2 separate regions of the Homo sapiens genome follow, and region 2 is linked to region 1. The links come from fine-mapping of genetic effects on gene expression. Tissue or cell type: whole blood. Region 1 holds a variant in brackets; the other region holds the start of a gene. All regions are shown on one strand. Distances are from middle to middle. Region 1 overlaps GOLM1 (golgi membrane protein 1). Region 2 holds the start of GOLM1 (golgi membrane protein 1).

Region 1 (15,308 bases):
TATGTTATGTGAATTTTATCCCAACTTTAAAAATAAGAAACAGGTGAAATTAATATTTTATTTACCCTAATGTATCCCAATTATCATTGCAAGATGTATTCCACATAAAAATTATTGAGAAATTTGGCATTTTCACACTCAATCTTTGCACTCCAGCATATCTTACACTTGTAGGACATCTCAGCTGGGACATGCTAAGTGCTCACAGCCACCTGCAGCTAGGGACAGCAAGTTCCAGAGGAATAAGAAGGTGGGGGCAAAGAGGGAGACAGAGAAGGGGAGGGAGACAGGGAAAGCGGGGAGAGGGAAGGAGAGAGAGGCAGAGACTTGCAAACAAGTCATTTATGGCATCCTGCTAAGATTACACACTCACACACTCATTCACACACACAAACAACAAGACAAGCAGTGACTCCCAAATGCTTCATGCCTACAGCCACCACTGAGCCAAATGGTGGGTCGCTGGATGCATGTTCCCATAGGGACAAGGGCACAAAGTGATGAGGAAACTAGTCCAGTCCACAAGCCCCTAAAGATGACATGATTATGTTTTGTGGGTTAAGAAGTTACATAACACACAGGCCGGGCGCAGCAGCTCACGCCTGTAATCCCAGCACTTTGGGAGGCCGAGGCGGGTGGATCACCTGAGGTCAGGAGTTCCAGACCAGCCTCAACATGGAGAAGCCCCGTCTCTACTAAAAATACAAAATTAACTGGGTGTGGTGGTGCATGCCTGTAATCCCAGCTACTTGGGAGGCTGAGGCAGGAGAATTGCTTGAACCTGGGAGGCAGAGGTTGCGGTGAGCCGAGATTGTGCCATTGCACTCCAGCCTGGGCAACAAGAGCGAAACTCTCTCAAAAAAAAAAAAAAAAAAAAAAAAAAAAAAAAAAAAAAGAAGAAGAAGAAGAAGTTACACAACACAGAAATGTTGTGACTGACACTGAATACTTGACATGAGGAATTCCTGGATGTTTTGGTATGATCATGGTATTGTGGCTATGAGAGACAGACAATCCCACCTTTTCAGGACGTGTGCTGAAATAGTCATGGTTAAAACGGCACGAGTTGTAATCGCTGAAGCTTGGCACTGGATGTGTGGGGGCTCACTGGGTCACTCTGTCTACCTTTTCATGTTTACGGTTTTCTACAATCAGCCAACACACACAGGCACACATAAGCTTGCCACATTGATAATTAAATCTGCCAAGTACAATTTTTTAAAAATCTTAACTTCAAGGCTGGTTTTAGAGGAAAAGAAAGGTGAATTAGAAGATGCTGAGATAAACCTGTTGTCTGGAGAAATTTGAGGTAGATTCAAGAACTTTTAGAAGGGCAGGTCTTTGCTGCAGTATTTCTCATTTGTAATTTCACTCCTAAAATTAAGCAATTTTCTTTTCATAGTATAGCTCCATCAACAATTATCAACTATGACAAATGGCCTTCGAAGCTCACTAATGAGGATAAAGGGAGGAAAAAGAAAAGAAAAACGAGTAACAGAGAAAGAGGGCAGCAGAGGGAAGACCGGGATGGGAGAGATTTTCTTGAAGACCTGAGACTGTGGCATCCGGTTTGGGATCTGCTGCTAATTTGCTCCTTGACTTTGGACGCTTCGTTTAACTTCTCTGTGCCTCTGTTTCCCCAAAGTGGAACCTAAGCAGGGTGGCCTGCTGAGTTTTATTTAAAGGGGCACCTTACAGACACCTCAAGTGGGAACCCAAATATGGGGGCATGGGTCAGAGTGTGAATGAGTGTCTGTGAGTGTGAGTTGAACTGAGTGTGAGAATACCAACAGGAGGAGAGGAGTGGCTAAAGGTTTAGGGGATAGAGTCAAATGTCAGCGTAAATGGTAGGATCCTGGTCAGAGAGCAGCTGAGGAGGCTTCAGGGCAGGGGACCCAGATGGGCAGAAAGGCGGGTCTGGACCTGCAGCTATGGGACAGTGTGCACAAGTCACCAAGTTTAAATGGAAGGGCGTCGGGAGATTAAGTGTAACTTTCTACAAAGCTTCAGAAAACACCATCTATCCAGGAAAACACGTAGGACACACAGACACAGTTGCTACACGCCCAGAATAGCTCCTGCCAACACATCCCTGTGTTGTCACAGGGAAGGTAACATCCTCCCACCCCATCCACCTTGCAGCTTGGCGGGTGTGGGAAAGCACCTCGCTGGGAGAGTGCAGGATGCTCCCAGGACCCGCCCTGGGGTCACCCGGGTGCCCAGCTTGGCAGAACAAGGTCCATGAGGTGTGGTGGCCATCACAGACATAAGCACAGGGTTGATGGCGAGGGGGCCTGAACCCAAGACTGGCTCACACCCTCCCCCAGCATCTCCTGCACAGGGCACACTGCAGGTGCTTTGGGGAGGGAGGAGAGAGGATGGGGAGGAGGGGAAGGGGAGGAAGGAGAGAGCAAAGGATGGTGAGGAGAGGGAGAGAAAGGAGGACAGAGGGAAGGGAGGACGGGGGAGGAGGGAGGAAGAGGAGGAGGGAGAATGGAGGGAGAGGAGGAGGGAAGAAAAGAGGACAGAGTAGGATGGAGGAAAGGGATGGAAGGAAGAGGAGAGAGACAGGGTCTGGAGGGGAGGAGGGCAAGAGGAGGATGGAGGGAGGAAAAGGACAAAGGAAGGGAGAGGGGTGGAGGGACAGAAAGGAAGAGGAAGGATGGAGGGAGGGGAGGCAGGAGGAAGGAAAAAGGAGGAGAAGCAAACGGGGGGGGCTGCCCTTGCCTCTGAGAACCTGCTACACTGTCTCCTTTGGTAGCAGCCTGCCCCTGTGCCTCTAACCTACACGTGACTTGGGTCAAATAAAACTTCCAGGAGGATCCAAACCTGAAGGACAGTGGGAACCCCAGAATGCACTTTGAGGCTTCTCTAGCAGTGGACGAGCGCCTGTCTTCTTAGTCCCTGACCCTGGATCTTTCTGAAGGTCTCCTCATCACCCAGCTGCCAGGGAACCTGGCTGCCCCTGAAGCAGCTCACACTGGTCTGTCCCCTCTGCAGCACCACCCAAGCTGCCCCTCAGCTCTTCCCGCTGCTCTCACTCCTGAACACTTAAGGAGATGGCAGGGGAGGAGCTGCCGAACCAGAGGAGCACCCCACACACTGCCAACAGGGCTTGACCCAGGAGCGGGGGCTTGAAAAGCTCCAGCTCCGTTTTTAGAGGAAGAAGAATGCCGGATTACAACACAGCACCAGCAATCTGGATATTCGTTCCCTGGCTGTTCTTTAACCAGCCAGGAAATGCCCTGTGCAAGGGCTGGAGGCCTGGGGCTGCAGACTCCCAATCTCAATGGGCACCCCAGGGCTGAGCCACCTGAGGGCACTGGGGGTTTCCATTTTCAAACGGGAATCCTAGCAGCTTCCCTGCTCCCACCTGCGGAAGAGGAGACACTTTTGTACATTCTGACTTTCTGCAGACAGGTAAAAAGGCGTACACAGACCTTTGGGGATGAAAGAGAAACTAAAACTGAACCAAGTGTACAGGTTACAGCGTCACAGTCAAGGCACCTAACAGACCCTACTTACTGTTTGTTCTTAAACATGAATGACTGCAGATCCCTGCCAGAGACGGTAAGTGAAAAAACAGCTACCTCCTATTTTCTTTACGTATTTCCCATCAAACGCCTGTCTTGGGTTGGGTTAAGAATTACAGAAGGTAAACGGAGTCAATTCCAAGTCACTCAAGCAATTTTCTGTGTGAAGAGAGAACAAGACAAAAGCCAACCACAACAGCAAAACCCAAAGCCTCCGTTACGCCTTCTATGGCAATCAAACACGCCAACGCTCTTTCTAGTGCGTATGAAGCCAAGGCCAAGAGCGAGGACACCTGCAGGATTTGGTTCTGTCCCATTAGGAACAGAGATCAATGCACATGAAATCCATGCCTCGTCTGGTCAGCCGCTAACCATCGTGGGCAACCTCACATTGCACGACAATGCTTTCCATGTGGAACTTGTCCATGGCATGTTTAAAAATCAAACCACGTCCTGAATCAAATAGGCATCTGAGTCTTCTCCTGAGGTCCAGGACATCCCATGACAGGCTCAGGCCCCTCCCTGGAGGTGGGAGGTGAGGACCCAGCACTAGGACACCCACTGAGGCACAGTCTGCAGTGAAGGACATCTACCTGAATGGCATGTTTGCTGCTTCTCCTACAAATGTATTTTTAAGTGTGGGAAGCAAATTACTTGAGTTTAATTATAAACCTGTATTTGAAGGTTGAATCCAATTGACAAACTGGAGAATTTCCAATCTAAAAAGACTAGAAGTCTTCTGAGACAAACACTTTTATTTTCAGGGCAGCAAATTTTCAATGGATTTTACTGACCTGCTTCCATTCTGCTCAATTCACACTTTCCCGCACCTATCCCATCTGTCACGGGGCCTGTTGATCCCTCCTCTTGGCTGCCTCCCAAATCTGCTCACTTTGCAGAGCTCATCCTACTCCTGCCCAAATTCAGTGCAACATCACTTTTTACTCCAAGTATTTCAAGAGCTGCCTCACTGTGCTGCCTCCTCTCTGCCCTGCTCCCCACCCAGCCCTCTCCCCACATGGCCAGGGCCTGCCTTTTAAATCCCACATCTGACCACACTGCTCCATCACAGCTTAAACCCTATGACGGCTTCCCCGGTCTTGAACTCAAGTCCAAACTCCTTCAAACTCAAGTCCAAACTCCTGCACCCCAACATCACACTCTGCTCGGGCCCAGCCACTCGCAGTTCCCTAGGCACCCTTCCAGGTTAGACACTGTGGGGGACAGCGCTGCTGACTCCCATGGCCCTTGAGCCGCCTGCCTGGTGGGGGATGCAGCAGATCGGCTCCTCCACGTCGGTTCCACACGCCTTTTGCTGTGCTTTCCTGAACCACAAAGGCTCGGAAGCTAAAATGCACCTTCCAGAATCATTTCCAGTGGGATTCTGCCTCCAATCAGATGCACTTACTGGAGGCTAGAATGTGGAACAGAGTGAGGGTGTGGGAGGTGCAGAACAGAGAAAGTGGGGTGCCCCTGACTCTGGGCCTGCACTGCAGCAGAACCCCGCTGGTCTCACGCTCTACGCTGGGCACAGGGGCAGGTCCTGAGATAGTGCCTGAGAGCCACCCCACCTCAATGCAGGCCCTTCCCACAGCTTACAGTATCTATTTCCCTGTATCAAATCCTTCCTGCTTAAAATATCTGGGTGGTTTCTCTGTCTACACTGACCCCACTACACTCACTTCCTCATCTTTGTCCAGCACTCAATGGTAAATGTGCAATGAACACAGCCTCCCCACCACTGGGCACAGGCCAGGGCAGAACAGAACAAATACTGAACGGACTGACAGAACTGGACCCGGAAAATCGGTGAGAATAAAAACAGAAAAGCTGCTCTAGAACTCTGGATTCATCAATCACAGCGATTAAAGGTGATAAAAATCAAAGACACCACTTTTATCTGCACAAGATCGCTTTGGTTCCCCCAGAAGACAATCATTACATTCGCAGGTGCACAAGCAAAGCTGGCCCAGAGAGAAGACACCAGAACCCTCTGAGAATTGCATCTGGCCACAGGAGAATGCAGTCTGGTGGGGCCAGTGTGACGAGCAGACCTGGCAGCCCCCGGCAGCCCCACGCCGGCCACTCTCAGGTGCCGGGAGCCTTCCATGACCTCTCTGGCTCTCACTCTCTTCCCCTCTGTCTCAAGCGACAAGAATGACTGTCTCCTAAAGAAATGAAGTTAGAAATTAAATATGTTCATGTCGGGCTGGGTGCGGTGGCACACACCTGTAACCCCAGCACTTTGGGAGGCTGAGGAGGGTAGATCACGAGGTCAGAAGTTCAAGACCAGCCTGGCCAACATGGTGAAACCCCATCTCTACTAAAAATACAAAAATAAGCCAGGCGTGGTGGCACCTGCCTGTAATCCCAGCTACTCGGGAGGCTGAGGCAGGAGAATCATATGAACCCGGGAGGCGGAGGTTGCAGTGAGCCAAGATTACGCCACTGTACTCCAGCCTGGGTGACACAGTGAGACTCTGTCTCCAGAAAATAAATAAATATGTTCATGTTACAAAAGCACTCTGAAACTCTCAAGTAGGACCAATGACCAGACTTGTTAATTATTTTATTTTGAAGAGGCAAAATCTTTCAGCAAAAGTCACTCATAAACAAATGCTGTTGTATTTGAGGGAAGTGACCCCATCCCAGGCTCAGAAGACACTCAAGAACGCACTCCATGAACCAGCTCTTTACAAGAGAAAAGCACTGTAAACACCTCAGAGCCTCCTCGTACCCCAAGTTACTGTGCAAGAGGAGAAACCGGGCAGCTCCCTGAAACCACCTGGACATGGGTACAGGTCACACAGGCAAGCATGACAACAGTGAGGCTGAGCGCCCCCTGCACTTTCCCACTGCCTCTTTAAGCTTTTCTTCTTCTGGACACAAAACGATAAGCAAGTCACCAACACCTCTGTTCTTCCACTCAGCAATCTTTTTGTTTTAACTCAGTTGCTCCCCTTCAGGAAAGATACAAGAACTCTATTTTCATGACAAAGGAACTGTTGCTAAAACATTACCTTTGCACCTCTGCAATATTAATGCACATATTTTAACAAATAAGTAAAAAGTATAAATGTCAAAGTGGATGTGCAGCTGCGAGAAACCAGCCGAGCGAGAATGTTACAAGTGCAAATGCTGAAAATGAAGCTATTTGTGACTGAACTTTTGGCAAGCAAAAATGAACACAATAGCAGGAAGATGTGCCTTTCCCTTCACGAAGTGCTAGTAAGTAATTCAGGGTCTCCCAGACTCTTCCCCAAGCATTTCAGAGGGCAGGTGATGCCACCCCCAAGCCTTTGTGGCCACTACTGGCCACTGAACAGCAGTTAGCCAAGAGGGGACCCAGGATCTTTGGAAGTCTTCAGACCCAAATTATTATTATTACTATTATTATTATTATTTAGATGGAGTCTCGCTGTCACCCAGGCTAGAGTGCTTGGCATGGTCTCAGCTCACTGCAACCTCTGCCTCCCAGGTTCAAGTCATTCTCCTGCCTTAGCCTCCCAAGTAGCTGGGATTACAGGCATGCACCACCACACCCAGCTAATTTTTGTATTTTTAGTAGAGACGGCATTTCGCCATGCTGACTGAACTCCTGACCTCAAGTGATCCACCGGCCTTGGCCTCCCAAAGTGCTGGGATTACAGGTATCAGCCACCATGCCTGGCCCAGACCCAAATTATTAATCAGCCTGTGTTAACAACATAAAAGAATGAATTAAACCACTCTGTGCCCTCCTTAGGAGAGAATGCACACCTTTACAAGTGAATCTCCATTGGCTTCTACCAAAAACTAAAACCCAAGTATCTGTTTCTAGTTAGGCCCCTTAAAAACCTGTTTTATATGTACACATATATGAATCTGTAAAAAAGAAAACAGTATTTCACTGGTGGTTGCGTGAAGATTATTTCTATGCACACGAATGTGGTAGTTTAAAAACATTACCACAAATTAATTGACACTAACTCCCAAAGGGGGAGTCCAATTCCCCTGAAATTCGGGGCAGCCTTAGTGACTTGCTTCTAATGAATGTAGAAGTGACCACACTCATTTCCAAGGCAAGGTCAACAAAAGGGGCCGTCGGTTGAACAGTGTACACCTAAAATTCATGTCCATGTTGAACCTGTGAAGGAGCCCATGAATGACCTCATTTAGAAACAGGGTTGGCCGGGCGCAGTGGCTCATGCCTGTAATCCCAGCACTTTGGGAGGCCGAGGCGGGCGGATCACCTGAGGTCAGGAGTTCAAGACCAGCCTAGCCAATGTGGTGAAACCCCATCTCTACTAAAAATACAAAAAACATTAGCTGGGCATGGTGGTGGGTGCCTGTAGTCCCAACTACTTAGGAGGCTGAGGCAGGAGAATGACTTGAACCTGGAAGGTGGAGGTTGCAGCGAACCAAGATCACATCACTGGACTCCAGCCTGGGGCGACAGAGTGAGACTCCGTCTCAAAAATAAATAAATAAATAAATAAATTTAAAAAAAAAGAAACAAGGTCTACGCAGATGTACTTAAATTAAAATGAGGTCGCTAGGTGGGCCCTATCCAATATGACTGGTGTTCTTATAAGAGGAGGAGAAGAGGCGAAAAGAAAGACTGAGAGGCAAGCAGGCCATGTGAGGTGGAAATTGCACAAAACTGCACTTACAAGCTGAGGAACGTCAAAGGTGTCAGCAAACACTAGAAGCCAGAGAGGCGAGGTAGTGTCCTCCCACAGCCCTGCTGGCACCTGAATTTCAGGCTTCTAGCCCTCAAAACTGTAAAAGTATACATTTTTGTTGTTTTAAGCTATCTAGTCTGTATTAATTTGTACGCAGCCCTAGGACCCAAATACAAAAGATGACACAGCTTCCTCCCGCTGGTCAGGTCTGCTGTGAGCGAGGATGCTAACTCTCAAAACCCAGCCCTTGCTGAAAAGAAGCCACACTGCCACGTGGAAAAGGGAGTGTAGGTGTCTTGGTCCTGGCCCCTGCCCCTGCCCAGGTCTCAGGTGACAGCTGCACTTACTGCCAGGCCCCTGAGTAAGGGACTCTCTGATCATTCTAACCTCAGCCTTCAAGGCACCCCAGACATGCAGTGCAGAGTAGAGACAACCCGTTCCCACTGAGCTTTCCCAAACTGCAGATGCAGGAGCAAAATACATGTTTGTTATGGGTTTAACTATGTTTGGGGATAACCTGATATGCAGTAACAGATAACAAAAACAACACGTGTGTCTAAATTCACCAGAACCAAACGTATGCTTTGTGTTCAAAACATAGTTACCAGTCCCAACTGGGTATCAGGGAAGTCTACAGAAGCTCCCTTCTGCAAACAGGTATGCAGAGTCCTCTTGTCTGCAATTATACCTCTCAGTGTCTACTTACAAAGTGGTTGCCTCAACTAAGATAGTAAGGTACAATAAGCCAACAATGTCTGGGTTTTTTTTTTTAACAATATGCAAAAGCCAGAAATGGCTAAACGTTTTATCATTTAAAGAACCCCACTTATATTCTACAATTTTCATGGCATACCTACATTTATAAAGTATTATAAGTATATTATTAAGTAGTAACTAATAAAAGCTTACATGTAATCTCTATTTTTTTTTTTAAAGAAAGGGAGTGGAGAGTTCTCAATAGCTAATTTCTGAGTGAGAACTACAGGTGAATTTTTCTTTTTTGTTTTCAAATTTGCTTATAACATTATTTTAATTAAGGAAAAGCCAACTTTTTTGGAAAGTTACTTAACATACACAATCATTGCAAAAGGCGGCTTAATATCCTTTCTTATACACAGAAAAGGAAGTGTGGTGCTTCTACTAAGT[T/A]ACATAAATTCTCATGAACTTGCACAACTGCACTGATGCAGTCAAACCATCTTCACCACACCTACTACTGCAACAGACAGGGAGGCAAAAAAGAAAGGAAACGGAAATGGCAGCTCAATCCCCAAGAACTGAGTCTCACTCATCTGAAGTATTTACTCTCGAATGAGCACAGTCTGCAGGATTTGGTTCAGATTAACGAGACATAATCTAATTAACCCATTAATACTCTAGCCAGTGGACGGATTCCTCCTGTGTGAGGTTCCTCCTCTCATCCAGTGGGCTATGGGTGTGGGGTCGTTAAAATGGAACACACATGGCCACCTAGCCTTCCACATGGGCAGAGGGTTAGCTGAGGCCAGCAATGACACCTGCCATTTTACATCTTTATCTCGCAACACTCTTCCCAACTTAGGTGGGACCTGTCACACCTCCACATTCCTTTTCTAATCCTCTGACTGCACTGAAATGCTGTCCTTCTACCCTTCTCTAAATCCCATTTTAGTCTCCAAGGCTCAAAGCCAATCTTTTTTTCTTTTTTTGAGATGAAGTCTCACTTTGTCACCCAGGCTGGAGTGCAGTAGTGCAGTCCTGGCTCACTGCAACCTCCGCCTCCCGGGTTCAAGCGATTCTCCTGCCTCAGCCTGCAGAGTAGCTGGGATTTCAGGTGCCTGCCACCACACCCGGATAATTTTTTGTATTTTTGGTAGAGACAGGGTTTCACCATGTTGGCGAGGCTGGTCTGGATCTCCTGACCTCATGATCTGCCTGCCTCAGCCTCCCAAAGTGCTGGGATTACAGGCGTGAGCCACCGTGTCCGACCTAAAGCCAATCTTTTTAGAGAAAAAAACAAAACAAAACTGCAACTGCTTTAGCCAATACCCATCTCTCCTTTCATGTAACTCCACCTGCTGTTAAACATTGATTATTTTCACCCAGCACAGTGGGTCATGCCTCTAATCCCAGTACTTTGGGAGGCCAAGGTGGGCGGATCACGAGCTCAGGAGTTCAAGACCAGCCTGGCCAGGATGGTGAAACCCTGTCTCTACTAGAAACACAAAAATTAGCCGGGTGTGGTGGCACGTGACTGTAATCCTAGCTACTTGGGAGGCTGAGGCAAATAACTGCTTGAACCCAGGAGGCGGAGGTTGCAGTGAGCTGAGATCATGCCACTGCACTCCAGCCTGGGCGACAGAGCGAGACTCCACCTCAAAAAAAAAAAACAAAAAAAACCTGATTATTCTCTAGATATGTGAGGGAATCTCATCTTCCTCCAAAACAGCATTCAAGCTGCTAAGGACACAGGGCCCCAGGCACATCCTAGACATCCAGTAAGTACTGGTACATGGACTGAGATTCCCATTCATTCATTTACCACGAACTCGAACTTTTACTAAGTAACAGTCTCAAACCCATGAGATAAGCTAATTGATCAGGCGCAAAACTTAGATTGCAAGAAATAAGAAAAGAGTGAAATATTACACACAGAAATGTAGGGCCAAAGGATCTGATCTGCAGGCCAGGAAGTTGTACAAAGTGAAATATAACAGCAGGAACGTTCTGTGGCAACAGCTAATAAAAATGAGAGGATGTACAACCATCCAGCTACTTAACGTCCAGGTGTATCTCTATATCTTTCCAGACTCTTTTGACCATGACCCACAATGATAAATTTTATCTTGTGATTCAGTACAAACATTTACACACATATATACATGTACACACACACACACACACACACACACACGTATATTTAGAAACAGGGTCTCGCTCTGTCACCTAGGCTGGAGCACAGTGGTGCAATTATAGTTCATTGAACCTCAAACTCCTGGGCTCAAGGTGATCCACCCACCTCAGCTTCCTGAGTAGCTAGGACTACAGGCATGCAACAACCATTCCCAGTTACTTTTTAATTTTCTGTAGAGACAGGGTCTCAGTATGTTGCCCAGGCTGGTCTTGAACTCCTGGCCTCAAGCAATCCTCCCGCCTTAGCCTCCCAAAGCACCTATTTTTTTTAATATAAAATGCAACAATGGTGGTCAGGCATGGTAGCTCATGCCTGTAATCCCAGCACTTTGGGAGGTCAAGGCAGGTGGATCACTTGAAGTCAGGAGTTCGAGACCAGCCTGGCCAACACGGAGAAACCCCGTCTCTACTAAAAATACAAAAATTAGCCGGGTGTGGTGGTGCAGGTCTGTAATCCCAGCTACTCGGGAGGCTGTGAGAAACGCTGTGAGGTGGAGGTGGAGGTTGCAGTGAGCCGAGATCGTGCCACTGCACTCCAGCCTGGGCAACAGAGTGAGACTCTGTCTCAAAAAGAAAAAAAAAAAAGCAATAATAGTTTCATAACGCAACAGTTAACATATACAATAACACTCTAATATTTTTAGTTTTTTAAGACGTGGGTCATTATCCACTAAATTATTAAGCATAGCTCACTAAAAGGTCCCAAACTGTAGTTGGCAAACACTGCAAGCTTGGAAAACCCCCAGGTGCCTGAGCAGCACTGTATGAGTATACTCACTGTACCTTCTCTCAAGGAGTAAAAAACTAGAAACAAAGGCTTACAATAAGGAGTGGGTAAATAAACTGGGGTATATTTATACAAAGAAAGAGGGTACAGCAGTGAGAAAGAATGAACTAAATCTATCAAATCAATAAAGACCTCAAAAACAATGGTGACTACAAAAAGCAAGTTATAAAATGATAGTGACCAAACATATACATTAAAACCAGAGAAAAAATATACATGTTGTTTTTGAACGTGTATAGTAATAGTTCAGAAATATAAGCTACAAAGACAATCATTAACATTCACAACAGTGGTTGTACAGGCAGGAGGGAAAGGAGAGAAGAGACGGAGAAGGGGAACATAGAGAACCTTGACTGTATTTATGATGTTTTTTGCTTTAAATAATATCTGGGTGAGGGGCACGCAGGTGTGAGCTTATTATTCATCTGACCTCTCTGCATGTCCAGCTATTTCATAAGAAAACCATTCTATGTCTCATTATGTCACCATCACACAGCTGTTGAGAAGCTCATGCAATGTCTTACACTTGCCCACCCACCCTGGGTGACATTCTAAGGGGTGTCTGAGCAAGCCTGTCTCAGTGCTGAGGACCTCGAGATCCACGTATACACAAATCCTGGGTGAGATGGCTATTCTGGGAAAAAAGCAGTGATGAGTAAGTTTCCAATCTGGCACAGCTTTGAAAAATGTTCAAGGATTCCAGTAAATGTGGGTAAAGATGAAAGAAATCCCTCAGAAAAACAAGCATTAACTCAATTACTTTGTAACAGCTCTATCAAATTACATTTAGATGAATTACAGTCATGCATTGCTTAATGATGGGGATAGGCTCTGAGAAATGCATCATTATGAGATTTTGTCTTTGTGTAACCATCATAGAATGCACTTATACAAACCTGGATATTATAGCCTACTGTACACCTAGGCTGTATGCTACAGCCTAATGCTCCCAGGCTACAAACCTGTACAGCATGGGACTGTACTGAATACTGCAGGCCTTGTAACACAGTGGTAAGTATTTGTGTATCTAAACACAGAAAAGATACAGTAAAAGTAGTAAGTATTTGTGTATCTGAACATAGAAAAGATTAGAATTTGATGGGTCCATAATTGACCAAAACATCACATGTGGCGCATGACTGCATACATCTTAATTACAATGCCCTTTAATTTTTAAATCACTTCACTGAAGAAGGGTAAAAAGGAAACTGAAAAAAAGATAACCTTGACAATGCATTTTTATTTTTAAAAGTGTAATTCTGCAAAACACTTGATCTCAATCACCGGTTTCTAGATCAGCTAGCTGCATCACAGTGGTCTGGAAGTTTAGAAAAAAAAAAAAGTACATGTATGAATATGTGTATGTTTATATATATGTGAGATATTTTTAAAAATTCTATATTCTGAGCCCAAACATCCAGAGAGTCTGATCTAGTGTATATTTTTAATCTGTATTTTGTTCATAAGCTCGCAGGTGGTTATCACGAGCAGCCAGGTGAGGACGGATTGCTCTGAAACAACTTCCATAACAAATAAGATCAAAACCCCAAGCTGGGGTGTAAACAAAAGCTGATTTGATAAGCTGAACAGATCATTCTGCATCAGAACACCAGCAAGCTGCAGAGACTTACTTTCAGGGGGGTGCACAACTCCCCAGGTTGAAGGTGATTTCATCTTCCATTGCCCAATTGCCCACACTGCTCCCGAACCTTACAGAGAAGGGGGAAAGGCACCAAGGAACCACAGGAGACTCAGACTCTGCCCTCCGCTCCACTGAGGAACATGGCTCCCTATGACTCAGAGGCCCAAACAAGGTTTTCCCCAGCATTCTGCCAACCACACAAACCCGTGCTGTCCAATGTGACCATTATTTGGCTATTTACATTTAAGTTCGATAAAATTAAATAAAATTCAGTTCTTCAGTCCCACTAGCCACATTTCAGGTATTCATTAGACTCATGTGGCTGGTGGCTACTGTACTATAAACATTTCTGCCATCATAGAAAATTCTATCAGACAGGGCCTACCCAAAGCAGTAATTTCATTATGAACAGGTGTTTGTTCACATTTTCCCTGATGACAGGTTTGGTTTCCAAGCTTTTGTCCAGCCCCCAACTTGAGGGATATAACACCTACCCAGAGTGACAGTGACTGCTTGAGGTGAGGAACGCTGGCAGAGACAGGCAGGGAAATCTCTAGGTCAGGTGTCATTTGCAAACCACCCCCAGCCACAGGTCCCCACACCCCAGCTCCTCCCATGGCTGAGAATCACCATGGTTCTTTAAAATTTTTTTAAGGAGACTTGTTCCAGTTCTAACCACAAATGCTAACCTTCTAAGATTTAAAAAAAAAAAAAAAAAAAAGACAGACAATGTATAAAAAAGTATTTAGGTGAAGGATAAGCCCATCCATGTAGCCAAAATAGAGCTAGTTAGAACACAGCAGTCTTTGGAAGCAAGGAGATCTAAAGAAGATGTTTTTAAAGTTTCTACTGTGAAGTCTTTAATGCAGACAAAGGTAAACAAGCTAGCATGCTGAACTCCCATGTACCCATCACCAGCTTCAGCACTGACCAACTCAAGCCCATCTGGTTTCCTCTATCCCCCTTCCCCTCCACCTTGGCGCCCTTCAGGTGCGGGCAGCCAAGAAGTTGTGTCTGCACTGAAGGAAGGCGGCGGCCAGTGTGCAGGGGTGGAGGCTGGCCTGGGGGCTCTCTAGGGTCTAGGTGTCATCCTGGTGACAGCTGCTAACTCTCTGAGCTTCCATTCACTAATAATATGAGCCCCAATCTCGTCAGACTGCTGGGAGGAATTAATGAAACAGTCCCTGTGAAATGCTCAGCCTCACGTCTGGCCAAGCACAGGCTCAGGAAACGTTCACTCCTGTGGCTGGTGTGGTGCCTGTCATCGTTCTCCTTCCATAGCCCCACCACACTGCTTGCTCTTGGTTCCACCTCCCTCAGTGTCTTCCTAACTCTTTTTAAAGCTAGCACAATTTGGTTTCATGGTTTCAATTTGGGAGGAAAAAAAAAATCTGCTACGGTCTGAGTGTGGGTGTCCTTCAAAATCCACACATTGAAACCAAATCACCAAATACCAAATGGAGGCGATAATGTTAGGAGCCGAGACCTCTGGGAGAGTCAAGCCCTCATACATGGGATTAGTGCCATAAAAGAGGCCCCAGAGAGCTGCCTTGCCCCTTCCACCAGGCAAGGACACCGCAAGAAGAAGGCATCCATGAACCTGGAAGTGGGCCCTCACCAGATGAATCTGCCCCGTCTTGATCTCTGACTTCCCAGCCTCCAGACCTGTGAGAATAAATACTTGTTGTTTATACGCTGCTCAGTTTATGATATTTTGTTATAGCAGCCTTAAACAGACTAAGACAAAGTCCATACAGAAAGAGATAACATTATCACCGCTGCTGCGGTGGCTT
Region 2 (17,135 bases), 30 kb after region 1:
GATTTTACTTATCCTTCACTTATGAAGCTTAGTTTGGCTAGATATGAAATTCCGGGTTGAAAGTTCTTTTAAGAATGTTGAATATTAGCCCCCATTCTCTTCTGGCTTGTAGGGGTTCTGCAGAGAGATCTGCTGTTAGTCTGATGGGCTTCCCTTTGTGGGTAACCTGACTTTTTTCTCTGGCTGCCCTTAACATTTTTTCCTTCATTTCAACCTTGGTGAATCTGACAATTATGTGTCTTCAGGTTGCTCTTCTCGAGGAGTATCTGTGGTGTTCTCTGTATTTCCTGAATTTGAATGTTGGCCTGTCTTGCTAGGTTGGGGAAGTTCTCCTGGATAATATCCTGAAGAGTGTTTCCAACTTGGTTCCATTCCCCCCCTCACTTTCAGGTACACCAATCAAACATAGGTTTGGTCTTTTCACATAGTTCCATATTTGTTGGAGGCTTTGTTCATTCCTTTTCATTCTTTTTTTCTCTAATCTTGTCTTCACGCTTTATTTCATTAAGTTGATCTTCGACCTCTGATATCCTTTCTTCCGCTTGACCGATTTGGCTATTGATACTTGCATATGCTTCACGAAGTTCTCGTGCTGTGTTTTTCAGCTCCATCAGGTCATTTATGTTCTTCTCTAAACTGGTTATTCTAGTTAGCAATTCCTCTAAACTTTTTTCAAGGTTCTTAGCTTCCTTGCATTGGGTTAGAACATGCTCCTTTAGCTCGGAGGAGTTTATTACCCACCTTCTGAAGCCTACTTCTGTCAGTTCATCAAACTCATTCTCTGTCCAGTTTTGTTCCCTTGCTGGCGAGGAGGTGTGATCCTTTGGAGGAGAAGAGGCATTCTGGTTTTTGGAATTTTCAGCCTTTTTGTGCAGGTTTTTCCTCATCTTTGTGGATGTATCTACCTTTGGTCTTTGATATTGGTGAACTTCAGATGGGGTTTCTGTGTGGATGTCCTTTTTGTTGATGCTATTCCTTTCTGTTAGTTTCCCTTCTCACTGTCAGGCCCCTCTGCTGCAGGTCTGCTGGAGTTTGCTGGAGGTCCACTCCAGACACTGCCTGGGTATCACCAGTGGAGGCATCAGAAAAGCAAAGATTGCTGCCTGTTCCTTCCTCTGGAAGCTTTGTCGCAGAGGGGCACCCACTAGATGCCAGCCGGAGCTCTCCTGTATGAGGTGAGCTGTCAACCCCTGCTAGGAGGTGTCTTCCAGTCAGGAGGCACAGGGGTCAGGGACCCACTTGAAGAGGCAGTCTGTCCCCTAGCAGACTTTGAGTGTTATGCTGGGAGATCTGCTGCTCTCTTCAGAGCTGGCAGGCAGGAACATTTAAGTCTGCTGAAGCTGTGCCCACAGCTACCCCTTCCCCCAGGTGCTCTGTCCCAGGGAGCTGGGAGTTTTATCTGTAAGACTGGGGCTGCTGCCTTTCTTTCAGAGATGCCCTGCTCAGAGAGGAGGAATCTAGAGAGGCAGTCTGGCCACAGTGGCTTTGCCGAGCTGCAGTGGGCTCTACCCAGTTCGAACTGGCAGCTTTCTTTACACTGTGAGAGGAAAACCACCTACTCCAGCCTCAGCAATGGCGGATGCCCCTCCCCTCTACCAAGCTCGAGCATCCCGGGGCAACTTCAGACTGCTGTGCTGGCAGCAAGAATTTCAAGCCAGTGTTTCTTAGCTTGCTGGGCTCCATTGGGGTGGAATCCAATGAGTTAGACCACTTGGCTCCCTGGCTTCAGCCTCCTTTCCAGGGGAGTGAACAGTTCTGTCTCGCTGGCGTTCCAAGTGCCACTGGGGTACCAAAAAAAAAAAAAAAAAAAAAAAAAAAACTCCTGCAGCTAGCTCAGTGTCTGCCCAAATGGCCGCCCAGTTTTGTGCTTGAAACCCAGGGCCCTGGTGGTGTAGGCACCTGAGGGTATCTCCTGGTCTGTGGGTTGCGAAGAGCATGGGAAAAGCGTAGTATCTGGGCCAGAGTGCACTGTCCCTCATGGCACAGTCCCTCATAGTTTCCCTTGGCTAGGGGAGGAGTTCCCCAACCCCTTGCACTTCCTAGATGAGGCGATGCCCCACCCTGCTTCTGCTCACCCTCTGTGGGCTGCATCCACCGTCTAACCAGTCCCAGTGAGATGAGCCAGGTACCTCAGTTGGAAATGCAGAAATCACCTGTCTTCTGTGTTGATCTCGCTGGGAGCTGCGGACCAGAGCTGTTGCTATTTGGCCATCTTACCAGCCACTCTGTTGTTGTTTTAAATAACCTAATCTTGTCAATCCTTTATTACTTCTCGATTGTTGTTATATTTAGAAGGGCATTTCCTATTCTAAGTTTATAAACAACTTACCCACATTTTTTTCCAATGTACAGTTTCATATTTACATTTAAATTGTTCATCCATTTAAAACTCCTTTTTGATGTAAGGAGTAAGGAAATACAAAGAATGCAGAAGTAAGGAAATACAAAGAATGCAGCTTTTTTTTTTCCTGTAGTGACAAGCCAGTTCTGCCAGGGCCCTCTACTGAATAATCTATTTTTACCTACTGCTTTGAACAACTATCTTTGTTATATACTAAATTTTCTAACAATATACTTTTTCTTAAAGAGATGGAATCTTGTCGCCCAGGCTGGAGTGCAGTGGTACAATCATGGCTCACTGCAGCCTTGAACTCCTGGACCTAAGCAATCCTCACACCTCAGTCTCCGAGTAGGCACATGCTGCCGCACATGGCTTGACAAAATACTTTTAGATGTGACCCTTGCAAGGCCTTTTGTTATTCTAGTAGAGGTAAGTCAGTGGGTGGGGTATATTATAAATTTGAAAGCAGAAAATAAACTCCATTCTCACTTCAAGGGAAGTGTACAGATAACCATTTAATATTCTCTTTTCTTTAAACAGCCAATAAAAAATTTATTGAGCAGCTACCATGAGTCAGGTGCTGTATTCACATCAGGCAGCTCAGGGTGGTATTAAGAGCACAGACTGGAATCCCATTGCCATATCTGAATCCTGGCTCCACCACTCAGGAACCCCACAGACTGGAGCCTCACAGCCATGTCTGACACTGGCTCCACCACTCAGGAACTCCAAGACTGGAACCCCACAACCATGTCTGACCCTTGCTCTACCACTCAGGGGACACAGGACCTGTCTGTGCATCACTGTCCTGCTCACAAGGTTTTTAAGAGGATTCAGTGAGTTGAGTGAGAAGCGCTTAGAGCTACATTTGGCACATAGTAATTGCTCAACAAATGTTGACAACTATTAGGGATGGAAAGATGAACAACAAATCATTTCTAGATTCAATCTTTTTTCCATTTTATGAGGAAACAGTGATGCATGTTTTCCTTCCATAACCATTCTACTTTATAGCAACCAGTCCTCCTCTTTCCTTCTCCTGACTCTGCCACCAACTAAAATAGCAGTACCTGCCATTACCTGGGGCTGACCTACAGTTGCCACTGAGGCCGTGGACATCCCAGACCAGGATCATATTATGAAAAAGGTTTGAGGAAGCCAAGCCTCAAACAGTCCTGGAAGTCATACAATCCTGGAAGCCCCTCACTGTCACCCAGTGCTTGGCTGGCCAGGAAGGTGAGCAGCTGTCTAGACAGCACTCTTAGGAGAGCCCTGGGCTCCCAATGGGAGCAGGGCTGCCCAGGTAAATAGTGACACAAGGAAAGGAAGTAACACAATGAGGCTTCAGGCCTGCAAGGTGCCTCCTCACAGGCTTCCAGGACTGTAGAAACCCTTGCTGCTGAAGGATAAGGGACACACACTGGCGAGAAATGATCAAGACTGATGAAGGCTGGTGGCAGGAACTCACAGGCAGAGTTTATGGTGGTCAAATACATCAGACACTCTCCCTTCTCCCACCTTAGAATTTATTTGGATTGCGGATGAGATGGAAGTGGGTGAGTGATATACTGCATCAAACAGAGGTATTAATTTAATATTCATTTTCATTTAAGCTTCAGAATATGTTTGTCTCATACTTGGTTATAAGCTTCCAACATACTGAAAATGATTAACTTAAATCAGCTAAACTCTGTGAGGCTCCAGGCTTTCCCAAAATTAAAACAAGTGGTGTGTTTTCACATTAAAAATCACTTGATAGGCTGGGTGTACACAGTGGCTCATGTGTATAATCCCAGCACTTTGGGAGGCCAAGGCAGACGATCACCTGAGGTCAGGAATTTGAGGCCAGCCTGGCCAACATATCAAAACCCTGTCTCTACTAAAAATACAATTAGCTGGGCATGGTGGTGTGTGCCTGTAATCCCAGCTACTTGGGAGGCTGAGGCAGGAGAATCGCTTGAACTTGGGAGGCAGAGGTTGCTGTGAGCCAAGATTGCGCCACTCACTCTAGCCTGAGTGACAGAGCGAGATTCTGCCTCAAAAAAAAAAAAAAAAAAAGAAACAACAACAAAAAAACCCCAAAATTATCTGGGTGTGGTGGCACACACCTGTAATTCCAGCTACTTGGGAGGCTAAGGCATGAGAATTGCTTGAACCCAGGAGATGGAGGTTGCAGTGAGTTGAGATTGCGTCACTGCATGCCAGCCTGGGCGACAGAGCAAGATTTCTGTCAAAAAAAAAAAAAAATCACTTGATAAATCAGAAAAGGAAAAAACTGCATATTCTTACCTACTGGCTTAATTTAAAAATTCAACCTATTGGTTAAAATTATTATTTGCTTTTAAGACAAAATGTTTGTAATTTAACAAAGCCTTCTAATTACTTTTTTTAAAAGAAAGAAAAGGCATATGAAAATGGACAACATGCCAAATACACGAGCCCCTTGACCCTCCTAGTCAAATATTATGTTTAACATTTCCTTATTTTCATATAGGGCTTTAAATCAGAAAAGCAAATATATAGGAGCAATCGCGTCAGATTAGCATGTTTGACCAACATCAACCAGTGCAGAAACTGGGCTTCTCCAAACAGTGGTGGAGCCACACCTCTAACTCCTTCTCAGAGGAATGGCCCCAGCGGCTCAGCAGGAAGTTCAGAAGTCACTGCAATGAGCAAACAGACCTGAGCACACCCCGGCGCAGCCTGGAGTCCGGGAAAGAATCAGTCACCAAGTTTTCTGATGGCCTGGAAATATTCCACCCTGTCCCAAGAATGTCTCTAAGCCAGGGGTGAGCAAACTATGGCCCACAGGCCATATCCGGGCCTGGTTTTTTTTTTTTTAAAGTTTTACTATACACTGCCATAAATACTGCCTATGGCTGCTTTCTGGCTACAAAGTAGAACTGAAAAGTTGAGACAGAGACAGAGACTCACAGACCAACTCTGCCCATAGGGTATTGTGAGGATTAAACATTTACCATCTGACCATTTAGACAGTTTGTCAACTCTGCCTCTAACCCATTGGGATTAAATGACCAAGGTCACTGTGTTCTGCTTAAATTGCTTTAAAAACTTACTAGGAAATACACAGACTCTCTTCCTCTCACTTCCCCAAAATGAACACCATCTTTTCCCCAATGCTAGAAGCTGACAGTGTCTAAAGATTAAAACTTTTAAAATGAATGTATAGTGGTAGGTAGTAGAAACACCAAAAAGCGAGGTGGATGAGTGAAAATGAACTAGGGAACCAAATTCTTCCTGTTTTGAAATTTTCTGAAGAAAGGTTGAACCACCGTCAAGAATATATCCTGGGGCCAGCACGATGGCTCACGTCTATAATCCCAGCACTTTGGTAGGCTGAGGCAGGAGGATCACTTGAGCCCAGGAATTCGAGACCAGATTGGGCAATGTTATGCAGGGAGACCCTGTCTCTACAAAAAAATATTTAAAAAAGAATACATCTTGGGCCAGGCACGGTGGCTAATGCCTGTAATCCCAGCACTTTGGGAGGCCAAGGCAGGCGGATCACCTGAGATCGGGAGTTCAAGACCAGCCTGACCAACATGGAGAAACCCTGTCTTTACTAAAAATACAAAATTAGCCGGGCGTGGTGGTGCATGCCTGTAATCCCAGATAGTTGGGAGGCTGACGCAGGAGAATCACTAGAACCTGGGAAGCGGAGTTTTCGGTGAGCCGAGATAGTGCCATTGCTCTCCAGCCTGGGCAAAAACCCCGTCTAAAAAAAAAAAAAAGAAAAAGAAAAGAAAAGAAAAAAGAATACATCTCAGTAGGAGCTCAATTTTTCCTTGAGTCACAAACTGCCGCCCAAGGGCCCAATCCTGCCAGCCATCTATTTTTGTACACTGCCCACAAATTAAGAATAGTTTTTACATTTTTTTTCTTTTTTTTTGAGACGAAGTCTTGCTTTGTCACCCAGGCTGGAGTGCAGTGGCGCAATCTCAGCTGTCTGTAACCTCTGCCTCCTGGGTTCAAGTGATTCGAATGTCTCAGCCTCCCAGGTAGCTGGAATTACAGGCACATGCCACCACGCCCAGCTAATTTTTGTATTTTCCCTTTTTTTTTTTTTTTAAAATAGAGATGGGGTTTCACCATGTTGGCCAGGTTGGTCTCGAACTCCTGACTTGAAGTGATCCGCCCACCTCAGCCTCCCAAAGTGCTGGGATTACAGGCATGAGCCAACGTGCCTGGCCAGTTTTTACATTTTCAATGGTTGAAGAAAGTTAAAAGAATAATATTTCATGACAGAGTGCTTCAAAGGGCTGAGATAAATTCTCCACATATTCCTGGCTGCCTGGAAGATTATGCGCGCGTGGGAAAGACCCAAAAGAGCCCAGCAGGGCTGAAAACCAAGAAGAACCGAGAACCAGCTGAAACTTGCAGTGTTCCCCAACTCGCACACAGACCTACTGATAGAGGGATGGAGACTGACCTGGCAGGTGACTCCTGGTTCAGTGCTCCTTGGAGAATTTGGATGCCATGAAGTGATATTAGATGTCAGTTTAGCTACCTGTTATTTTGAGTGCTTCCTTAGCGGTACTGTTGAGGCAGTGTGGCTTAGGAAAAGAGTACTGATGTGGGTCAGGCCAAAAGGAATTTTAATCCTAGCTTTCTTACTATTTGCATGAATTTTGGTGAGTTGTATAATCCCCCTCTCTGTATCTTATTCAATCCTTGTAAAAGTCCATTGAAGTAGGCTTACTACTGACCCCATGTTCTAGGATGCAGTGATATGAGACTTTAAATATGTAAAACCTTTTGTTGTGAGGATTAAAAATTACAGCGGCAATAAAGTACACACCACATGATAACTGCTCGATAGGTTTTTTTTTTTTTTTTGGTTTGGAAATAAAAGGATATCTCATGACACATGAAAATTACATGAAACTAAAACTTCTGTATCCATAAATAAAGTTTTACTGGAACAGAACCATGCCCATTCATTTACATATTATCTGTGGCTACTGGGCTATAACAGCAGAGCTGAGTAGTTGTGACAGGGACCACAGGGTCTGCAACATCTAAAATAGTATCTGGTCCTTTTCAGAAACAGGTTGCCAACTCCTGCTGTAGTTCAATGGTCCTTAAAGTGTGGTCCCCATATTAGCAGCATCAGCATTACCTTGGAATTTGTCAGAAATGCAAATTTTGTGGCCGACCCCAGACCTACCAAGTCAGAGGTCTGTTTATTCCACTAATAAATGCAAACACAGGACAGCAAAATACCGTGGCTGGCAAAGCTCTATACTGAGTCAGCCTTGCATGAGATACCTCATGAAGTAGAAACTATGCTGATGTAATCAGATCTGACAAGACACAGGCCCAAAATACTTAAAATTAAGAGAAAGAGTATTTAAAACAGGGTTTCTACCTCTAATGTTGTTAACAAATCCAGCCCTATGTGTATATTGGGCCTTGAGACACAATATAACCATAACAGCAAATACATGTAGTTTATAAATAAGCAACAAATGCACATACAGAAGAGTGTTAAAAAAGTTTTTTTATTACTAAGAAACATCAAAAAAGTTGGGAAACGATAGCAAATTACAATATAAACAACTATAATCATATTATATAGTATTTATATATGTACTTTTTTCTGTCAGGCACTAATCTTCAAAATCTTAGCAAGGGAAGTCCTACTAATAAAGTGCTTAAGGGTTTTAAAGGAAAATAAGACCAAAATGTAAAAATCTGAGAAGGCATGGACTTTTTTTTTTTTTTTTCCTGAAAGTGTGAGAAATATCTGTGTGAAAGAAAGGAAAGACTCTCTGGAAATTTAAGAAACACTTCATAAATTTGGAGACAAGTCTCTCTTTTAATGTAACTTCATCAATAACGTGAGAAGTCCAGAAAACCACCATGATCTTTAAGAACAGTTTTTGGGGAGCAAGTGAAATATCATTCGCCCTTTTCTAAGGTGAGAGCAAAAGCATAGTAGCACCATTCCTTCTGTTCCTTCTACTTTTTTACAAATGTTTAAAAAATTGTTTTGTTTTACAAAAACAGAAGTGCTTTTAAAAAATCCCAATTACAAATGTTATTTCTCACATTACGTCACTGAAAAAGAAATGTATCTTTTTTCATAGGGCAACTTATTTTTTTTTTATTTCAAGAAAAAACAAGTAATAACAATAATGCTGCAGAATTTAAGCCAAAGGCACAGAACACCGCTCCCCCGCCCCCAATGGCCACCCCAGGTCCTTTGAGAAAGGCGGCTGGACCTCAGGGACCACGCTGCCTTCAAGCTCCCTCCCACCAATAGTGCCCATCAACTGACACCTGTCTTCTTCTCAGCACACCTGCCTAAAGTGATGCTCCACCCTTCCTACTGATCCACGCAGACGCATTTTCCCCAGGTTCTGCCCTCTGTACTTCCAATGCAGAAAGCCAGCTCGCACTTTCACAGGATAAGGGTAGCAGTTCCCTCCTTCCTGGGGAAGGTGGCCATATATATATAAACCCGGGTAGCCCTGGGCCTGCTATGGTCAGCTGTCCTAACTGTTGTTTCTGCCCAGCCCTCAACAACAACAACAACAGCGGGTGGAATGTAAATGCAAAATCTTTTCATTTCCCATCAATAACTGGACCTAAACCAGCCATTAGAAAGCAGATGGTATCCCTGGCCCTTAATATCCAAGTCACCACAATTTCCTGGCCCCACCCTCAGCACTACTTTCCTCTCATTTCTTTCGTTTTCCTGTAAAACCAACTTTAAAAAAAAATGTGAAAATTGGATAACCTCTCCATAGGAGAACAAAATGTATCTTAAAAGCTAACCTCTTTTCTTTAACCATCCTAACAATTCAATTTTTGTTCACTGACACCTTAAGAATTGAGTGTCTGGCCTAAAAACAGTAAGTCTTAGCAAGTTACTAGTTTCTATTAAGAAAGAAAGTAATGAGCTTAGCTTCATCTTTTATAACACAACTGGAAGAAGCTAGGATGCCTTTGGAGACCCACAAAAACTGACAAGAGATTGTCCCATGCCCTCCAAAATTCAGAAATACTAAAACTGAGATTTGAGCCAACCTGATGGCCATGAGCTAAACAAAGCCACTCAAGCGCTGCTAAATACTTCATCAGGTTATTGTGTATCTCACTAATCCAGCCCTAGAAATGTTCCTCAATAATGTGCATAATGTAGGGCCTAGGGACCCCAAATCAGACAAAGAAAACCTCAAAATCGTGAAAGTCACACAAGTTTAGTTTTGCAAATCTGGCTATGGGACATCTGAAATTGTCCAGCATCATCATGGTATTTCAAATATAATAATTCTTAAATTTTGCTAAAAAATTTCATCAAAATTGTTATTCTTCACATTTTGTTTCTTAAAAGCAAATCATTAAAAATATTAAATGGGATATGATTTTTACAGCAGGGCAAAGTTGTGTGGATCCTCCACGTTGGCAAAGGTGGAAACACAGGTATGCGAGAAAACCCCGAGCATCCACGAGAACGGGATGCAGCCGCGCTCTGGACGCGCGGCGGGAGGACCCGGAGCCCAAGCTCCGGGGTCACCAGCCACGAGGCCCAGCGGCAACGTGGACCCCAGGGCGGCCGGAGCGCGCCTGGGGCTGGAGGGGAGGAAGAGGCGGCGGGAGCCGAGAGACTCGCGGCTCGGCCAGCCTCCCGCGCCTGGTGCAAATCACGCTGCAGAACTGGAACTAGTGCGACTTAGGGGGTGCACGCTTTTGACTTTGGATGCCGACGCGCGTGACAAAGCTCAGAACAAAAAGACAGGCCCCGCATCGCCTGAGACTGCAGGGCAGGGAATCCTCGCGAGGCCCCTCATCGCAGGGCAAGGGGGCCGCGCGCCCGGTCTTGGGGAGCGAGCCGAGGGGCCCAGGCAGCCGCGGGCTACTCGGTGCAGGAAGGTGCGGAGCCAGCCCCGAGCGCAGCCAGCGAAGGTTGCAGCCCCGGCGCAAGCCGCGGGGAGGCTCCGGGGACCGACGCGAGGTCTCGGCGCGCGGGGTACGGGCCCTGGGCAAAGGAGGGAGGAAGCGATGGACCGCGGTTCGGGCAGCCTGGGGCCGCGCGCCGCCCACTCACCTCTTTTCGAGGCTCCGGCCGCCACTCGGGGATCCGGGGCCCCGCTACGAGGCCGCCCGGGTCGCTCTCCCGCCGCCGCCGGCCTCGAGCTCCGGCCGGCTCCGCGCCGTGCGCCCAGCGCCTCCGCGTCCAGCGCCGCCGCGTCTCCGGCCTCCGCAGCGGCAAGGCCCCGCCCCCGAGCAGCGCCGGCGGCGCGAAGGGAGGAGGCGGCGCCGCGAGCGCGGAGAAGCGAGGCAGGGGCTGCCGGGGCCGCGCGGACTCCCGGCCCCACGGTGCGCGCGCCCCGGCCGGTGGCCGCCCCTCGGCGGGAGCAGGAACGCCAGCGTGCGCCCAGTTCTCGCCGCTGGGCGTTGCCCCTTCCCCCGGGCCACCCCATCGCCCCTTCCGACGCGGGAGCTGGCGCCTGAGCAGCGACGCGGAGCGGGGAAGCGGCTGTGGGGAAAGGGTACCTGGGGGGAGCCCCCATCCCACGTTCCGCCCCGAGGGAATGTTCCCGAACAGCCAACCGCACCCAGCGCCACACTCACGTTACCTTCTTTATAAAAGTCGTCGGGTCAAAACTGCCCAGAGAAGGAAGCGAACGAAAAACAGGTTTTTAGGGGGCTTATACTCACAAAATTGTCTTTTTTCTCCCACGAGGCATTCCCTGTTGACCATCATCTCGCCTCGGTTGTCACCGCTCAGGCCTTAGTGTTTGGTCTGTGACCCTTCCACTGCTAGCAACGGAAAAAGTGAAGATTCCCGGACGCCTTCGGGTGTGATCTTATAGCCCGGGCAGCTGCATTTGAAACAGCGCCTCAGATGACGCTCAGGCGCACTGATGTTTGAGAAGCCCTATGAGGCCGTACCTCCCGGAGAGAATGCCACAAAACTAGTGACCTACAGGGAAACCATGCTAGAAAATTCTAAAGCAATGGTTCTTAACTCTGGCAGCACCTGCCATCCATTAGAATTATTTGGGGAGCTTTTAGAGCATTTAGGAACCAGGGTCCCACTTCCAGAGTTCAAAGTGAACTTGATATTTTTTGTTTGTTTTGAGCTTCCCAGATAATCCTAATACAGTATACGGCCAAGATTGAGAACAGTTTTCCTAGAATCATGTCTTCATGTCTTCCTAGCTCTGGTGTCTGGGAAAGGAAACTCCTTCCTCTGCGCCTCTCTCAAATCACAATAAAAAAACAAGTAAATACATGAACACCTAAAGGAATGCTCACAGCTGAAATTGATTTTAACCAGAACAAAGAGTCACCTTAAAAAAGGTGATCAAGATACCCTATTGCTACCTGAGCATGGAGCTTCTTAACTGCAGGAAACGTATCTTTACCAGCTAAAACCTCTTAGCTGAATTAGAAGCTGACCATACATGACCCCTTTAGAGGAATGTTCTACTATATTCCAAAATGATATTTTTGTTATCTGCAACTGTTAAACTGTTGTAGGGTCAGACCAAAGCATTCAGAAGCTGAGGCTGTATCAGATGTCAGCCCTGGTTTTGCAGACTTAAGTTGTGTCACTTTGATCTTCTAGTGAGCTTAAATAACCATAATCGGGGACAGGTACAGGAAATTCCCTTTCTTGCCCATTTTAGCTCTCTTAGTATAGTTTACATTCTTAGACTGGTGGACTGTAACTTCTATATCATTTGGCTCTAAGGAGGGTCTCCATTAGTCTCTCATTTATCAGCAACTAATTAGCGACTCACTCAGTGATTCTTAAACACTTTATGGAACAGGTCCATATGTCTAGGTGCTAAGGCAGCTGGCTGAATGAGCTATATTTTAATTGAAGATGAATTAGTCCTTTTCGTTAGATTCTTTATGACAAAAGTTGAAAATTTTAAGATGCAGTTTTATATATATCTATATACATAATTTACATTCCTTATAAAAAAGCTAATCAGTTGCTGGCCCTGAAAATTCAATTGGATGGGTTTTGATTAAACAATGTGCAAGGGGCTACAGTGGTTGGTTGAAGGAAGCATCCATGTTTTGCCTGTTAAGCATCCTTTCCTTAATGTCTTAGTCCATTTTGTGTTGCTATAACACAATTCCACAGACTCAGTAATTTATAAAGAAAAGAAATGTATTTCTCATAGTTCTGAAGGCTAGGAAGTCTAATATCAAGGTGCTGGCATCTTGCAAGGGCCTTCTTGCTGCATCAGCCTGTGGTGGAAGGCAGAAGGGCAAGAGGGTGTATGTGAAATTGAACTTGCAGCCTCAAACCCTCTATAATTGGCATTAATTTATTTATAAGAGTGGAGCCTTTATGACCTAAACACCTCCCTTTGGGCCCCACCTCCCAACACTGTTGCACTGGAGATTCAGTTTTCAACACGTGCTTTATGGAGCACACATTCAAACCATAGCATTCTGCTTCTATGCCCCCCACCACCCCCAGTTCATATCCTTCTCACATACAAAATACATTTATTCCATCCCAACAGCCCTAAAGGCTTTAATATTTATTTATTTATTTATTTATTTTGAGACAGGGTTTCACTCTGTCCCCCCGGCAGAAGTGCAGTGGTGTGATCATGGCTCACTACAGCCTCAACCTCCTGGGCTCAGGTGATTCTCCCACCTCAGCCTCCTGAGTAACTGGGACTACAGGTGTATGCCATCATGCTCAGCTAATTTTTTTGGTATTTTTTGTAGAGATGAGGTTTTGACATGTGGCCCAGGCTGGTCTCAAACTCCTGGGCTCAAGCAATCCACCTGCCTCAGCCTTCGAGAGTGGTGGGACTACAGTCATGAGCCACTGCACCTGGCAGCCCTAAGGTCTTCACTCTAGCACCAACTAGAAAGTCCAGAGTCTCATCTAAATCAGATATGAGCAAGATTCAAGGCACAATTCATCCTAAGACAAATTCCTCCAGCAATGAGCCTGTGAAATTAAAACAAATTATTTACTTCCAAAATACAATGGTGGCACAGGCACAGTATAGGTATTCACATTCCCAAAGGGAGAAATATGTAAGATAAAGGGGTAACTGGTCCCAAGTAAGTCCAAAACCCAACAGGGAAAAAATAACATTAAATCCCAAAGCCTCAGAATAGCCTTTCTTGACTATATCTCACCTTCTAAGCATACTAGGGTGGGAGTTGGACCCCCAAGGTCTTGGGCTGCCCCATCTGTATAACTTGGCTGGGTGTAGTCATGTCACAGAACCTCATGGTTTGTAGTCTCATGTCTAAAGCTCTTCCAAGCTGTGTTGCACACTGGTAGCTCTACAGTTCTGGGGGCTCTGGGACAGCCCCAACCCCACAGTTCCATTGGTCATTGTCCTAGTGGTGGTTCCCTGCTATGGCTTTGCTTCCATGGCTCCACTAGGCATTTCCCTGGTAGGGAATCTCTGTGGCAGTTCTGCCCCTACGGCAAGTTTCTGCCTGTATCCCCAGGCTGTCCAGTACATTCTTTGGAATCTAGGTGGAGGCTGCCATAGCCCCATAGCTCATGAACTCTGTGTACCTTCAGAATTAGCACCACATGGATGCCGCCAAGGCCCACCACTTACACCCTCTAGAACAGTAGCCTAAGCCACAGCTGGGCCCACTTGAGCCACACAGCTGCAACAGCTGTGGAGTGCTGTGCTGGAAAGCGGGGAGCAGATACTTGAGGCAGTGCCTGGTAGCAAATGCTGAGGTCCTGTGGCCACGTCTCTGGAAACCTTGCCTTCAAGGTCCTGCTCTGGGCCTGTGATGGAAGGGGCAACCTAAAAAATCTCTGAAATGCCATTGGGGTCTTTCTTGTCTTGATGAATAGCACCTGACTCCTTTCTAGCCATGGTAATCTCTTTAGCAAGGGGTCCACTGGACTATATCCCTACAAGGACTTACATCTTTATGAGGCTCTCCCAAACATGCCTTTGCACTCTTGGCCAGGCTGAAAATTTTCAAAATTTTTTTCTGCTTCCTTTTTAGTTATAAATTTCATCTTTTAATCATTTATTTCTTCTCTAATTTTACTGTAAGCAGCCAAAACAATCCATGCAACACCTTGAATGCTTTACTGCTTAGACATTTCTTCTGCTAGATATCCTAGTTCATTGCTCTTAAATGCTGCCTTCTTTTCTCTAGCTTACCTTATTGTAAGAATACAGTTTATAATACATATAACATGCAAAATATGTGTTAACTGTTTATGTTATCAGTAAGGCTACCAGTCAACAGTAGGCTATCAGTAGTTAAGTTTTGGGGGAATCAAAGTTAAATGCAGATTTCCAACTGTGCAGAGATGGGGGTGTCCCTAACCCGTAGATTGTTCAAGGGTAAACTGCATGAAATAAATTGAATTGAACAGACTAAAAAGTATTTGCTGTAAATATCTTGCTGTGTTTGCTTTCAGTATCCATTATTTCCTTTCTCAGGTACCAACATCATCATTTTTTGGAGAACTATTTCTCCCTGACTTTTCAATCCTAAATATCTGTCATAAGCTGAACAGTTGCCCCCTGCCAAAGATATATCCATGCTCTAATCCCCAGAACCTTTAAATATTATCTTATATGGCAAAGTATGTAATTAGGGTAAGGATCATGAGAGGGGGCTCTTATCCTGGATTATCTGGGTAGGCTATGAATAAACCGTAAGTGTCCTTATAATGGAAAGGAAATGGGAGTTTTGAGACAGAAAATAGAAGGCAAATGTGACTACGGAGGGCAGAGACTGGAGTATGGGGCCACAAGCCAAGGATGTCTTCGGCCACGGGAAGCTGGAACGGTTTCCCTGCTATAGCCTTTGGAAGAACACCTCCAGAACTATGAGGGAATAAAATTTCAATTGTTTTACGCCATCCAGGTTGGGTAATTCGTTATAACAGCCATAAGAAATTGTTACAATGTCCAATTCTATAGGCTATAGTAATTGGTTCAGGGAGAGGCACATGACCCAATTAGTCCAGTAAGACTCCATTATAGGACAATCCCTGGAACTACTGAGACAGAAAAGTTATCTTTTCCTATGAAGGCAGCCCATATTGGGAGAATATAGGCCTCAAGCTGTTTATGGCCATCACGGAGAGACCTGGGCCTTATATGTGGAGAAAGATAGAGACAAATACCTAGTGTTGATTATGTCATTTGAACTTCTGGATCAAGCCATATCTGAAGCTAGGTCTATCCCTGGACTTAGCAGTTTTATCAGCCAATTAACTTCTCATTTTACTTAAGCCAGTAATGAAATGGGTTTCTGTCACAAGCAGGCAAAATAATCCTGACTAATAGAGTCTTAGAATCCTTTTGTTACCTGGTAGGTTTGCCAGTTAAATATGAACTTCAGATTAACAACAAATAATTGTTTTAGTACAAGTATTTCCCAAATGTACCATGGGACAGATACTAAAAAAATTATGTGTTGTTTTTCTGAAATTCAGATTTAACCGGGTATCCTGTTTGGTTTTTGCCATTGTTTTGTTTTTGCTCTCTGGAAATCCTGTGTTGGAAGAAGGTTTTTTACTGATTATTCCAAACCTTTGAAAGGTCAGGTTGTTGTAGTACAAAGGAAAGTAGAAATTCCTGGACGTTGATCCATCCTCATTCTAGAGTAGATGGCTCTTGTAATTTTAAGCATTCAAGTAACTGCCTTCAGTCTTCTGTATTGATTGGGGTTGTAAAACAGTGTGATTGTACCTCCATGGTGTCATGAACCTGGATGTGATTTGGAATTGAGAAGGACATATTAGTTTGTAAAAGCTTCCCATCGCTTAGTAAAGAGGTGCCGTAGTGTATTGTGAGACCTGTAACATCTTTTGACTGATGCTCTTACAGAGCTGCCTTCACCATTTGCTCTTCTTGGTGTGGGGTACACGTTAGAGACAGGTCCAAATGCCAAGGACTGCAGAGGAACCAGCCAGAGGGGCAGGGCAGAGCTGTGTGCAATGCCTGTCAGTTTCCTTGAGCAAGTAGGAAGGAAAAGGACCATGCTGGAGGGTATCCTGTTACATGGGGACCAGTTTGAAGATGTGAGGTCTGGTATATATTAGGTTGGTGCAAAAGTAATGGCAAAAGCCACAATTACTTTTTTTAGGTTGATGCAAAAATAATTGGGGCTCTTGCCATTACTTTTGCACCAAGCTAATATAAGGTAACACCCTGGTCCAGTGTATATGGGAAAGGTGTGTGTTTGTGCATCAAGATGAAGTTGTACAAAAAATGTTCTTCTACTTTACTAATGCTTGCATGCCTTTTGTTCTCAGAATACTCCCTCAGCTCCTTCAAAAGGCTTCTGAAGTAGGTTAGCTTTTTGACCTTGAGGCTTATAACGGTGGAATGAGAGATTCCATGGTTTATTTTAACTGTGCAGCAATATTAAGAATACTTGTAAACTTACAAACTTAAGAAGTTGCCTGGCTCAATGATTCTTCTACTATAGCTTATTTTTAAATGACTTTTGAGAAAGGAGGATACTTATTTAAAATAGTTTGGGGCTGGCGTGGTGTGGTAGCTCACGCCTGTAATCCTAACACTTTGGGAGGACAAGGTGGGTGGATTGCTTGAGCTCAGGAGTTCGAGACCAGCCTGGGCAACATGGGGAAAACCCGTCTCTACAAAAAAAAAAAAAAACAAAAAAGTCGCCAGGTGTGGTGGCACACGCCTGTACTCCCAGCTACTTGGGAGGCTGAGGTGGGAGGATCGCTTCAGCCCAGGAGGAGGTCAAGACGTCAGTGAACCAAGATTGCATCACTACACTCCAGCCAGGGTGACAAAGTGAGACCCTGTCTCAA

What was found. PIP is the estimated chance that this variant, and not a neighbour inherited with it, causes the effect.
Region 2: it holds the start of GOLM1, and the variant in region 1 is fine-mapped to the expression of GOLM1 in whole blood (TOPMed, PIP above 0.99).

What each region holds. Positions count from the first base shown.
Region 1 is chr9:86,060,020-86,075,327 of GRCh38, forward strand. All of the region lies in intron 3 of GOLM1 (golgi membrane protein 1), which reads right to left. Among named protein-coding and RNA genes, the nearest start is that of GOLM1, 32 kb to the right of the region's middle. RefSeq lists enhancers at 2,665-3,581, 4,814-5,314, 5,315-6,315. The variant T/A (reference allele first, on the strand shown) is at 9,344.
Region 2 is chr9:86,088,996-86,106,130 of GRCh38, forward strand. It overlaps GOLM1 (golgi membrane protein 1), which reads right to left and starts at 10,563. Exons shown (of 10, transcript NM_016548.4): 1 at 10,416-10,563. RefSeq lists silencers at 4,759-5,053, 10,135-10,184, 10,345-10,444, 10,455-10,774 and an enhancer at 10,004-10,504.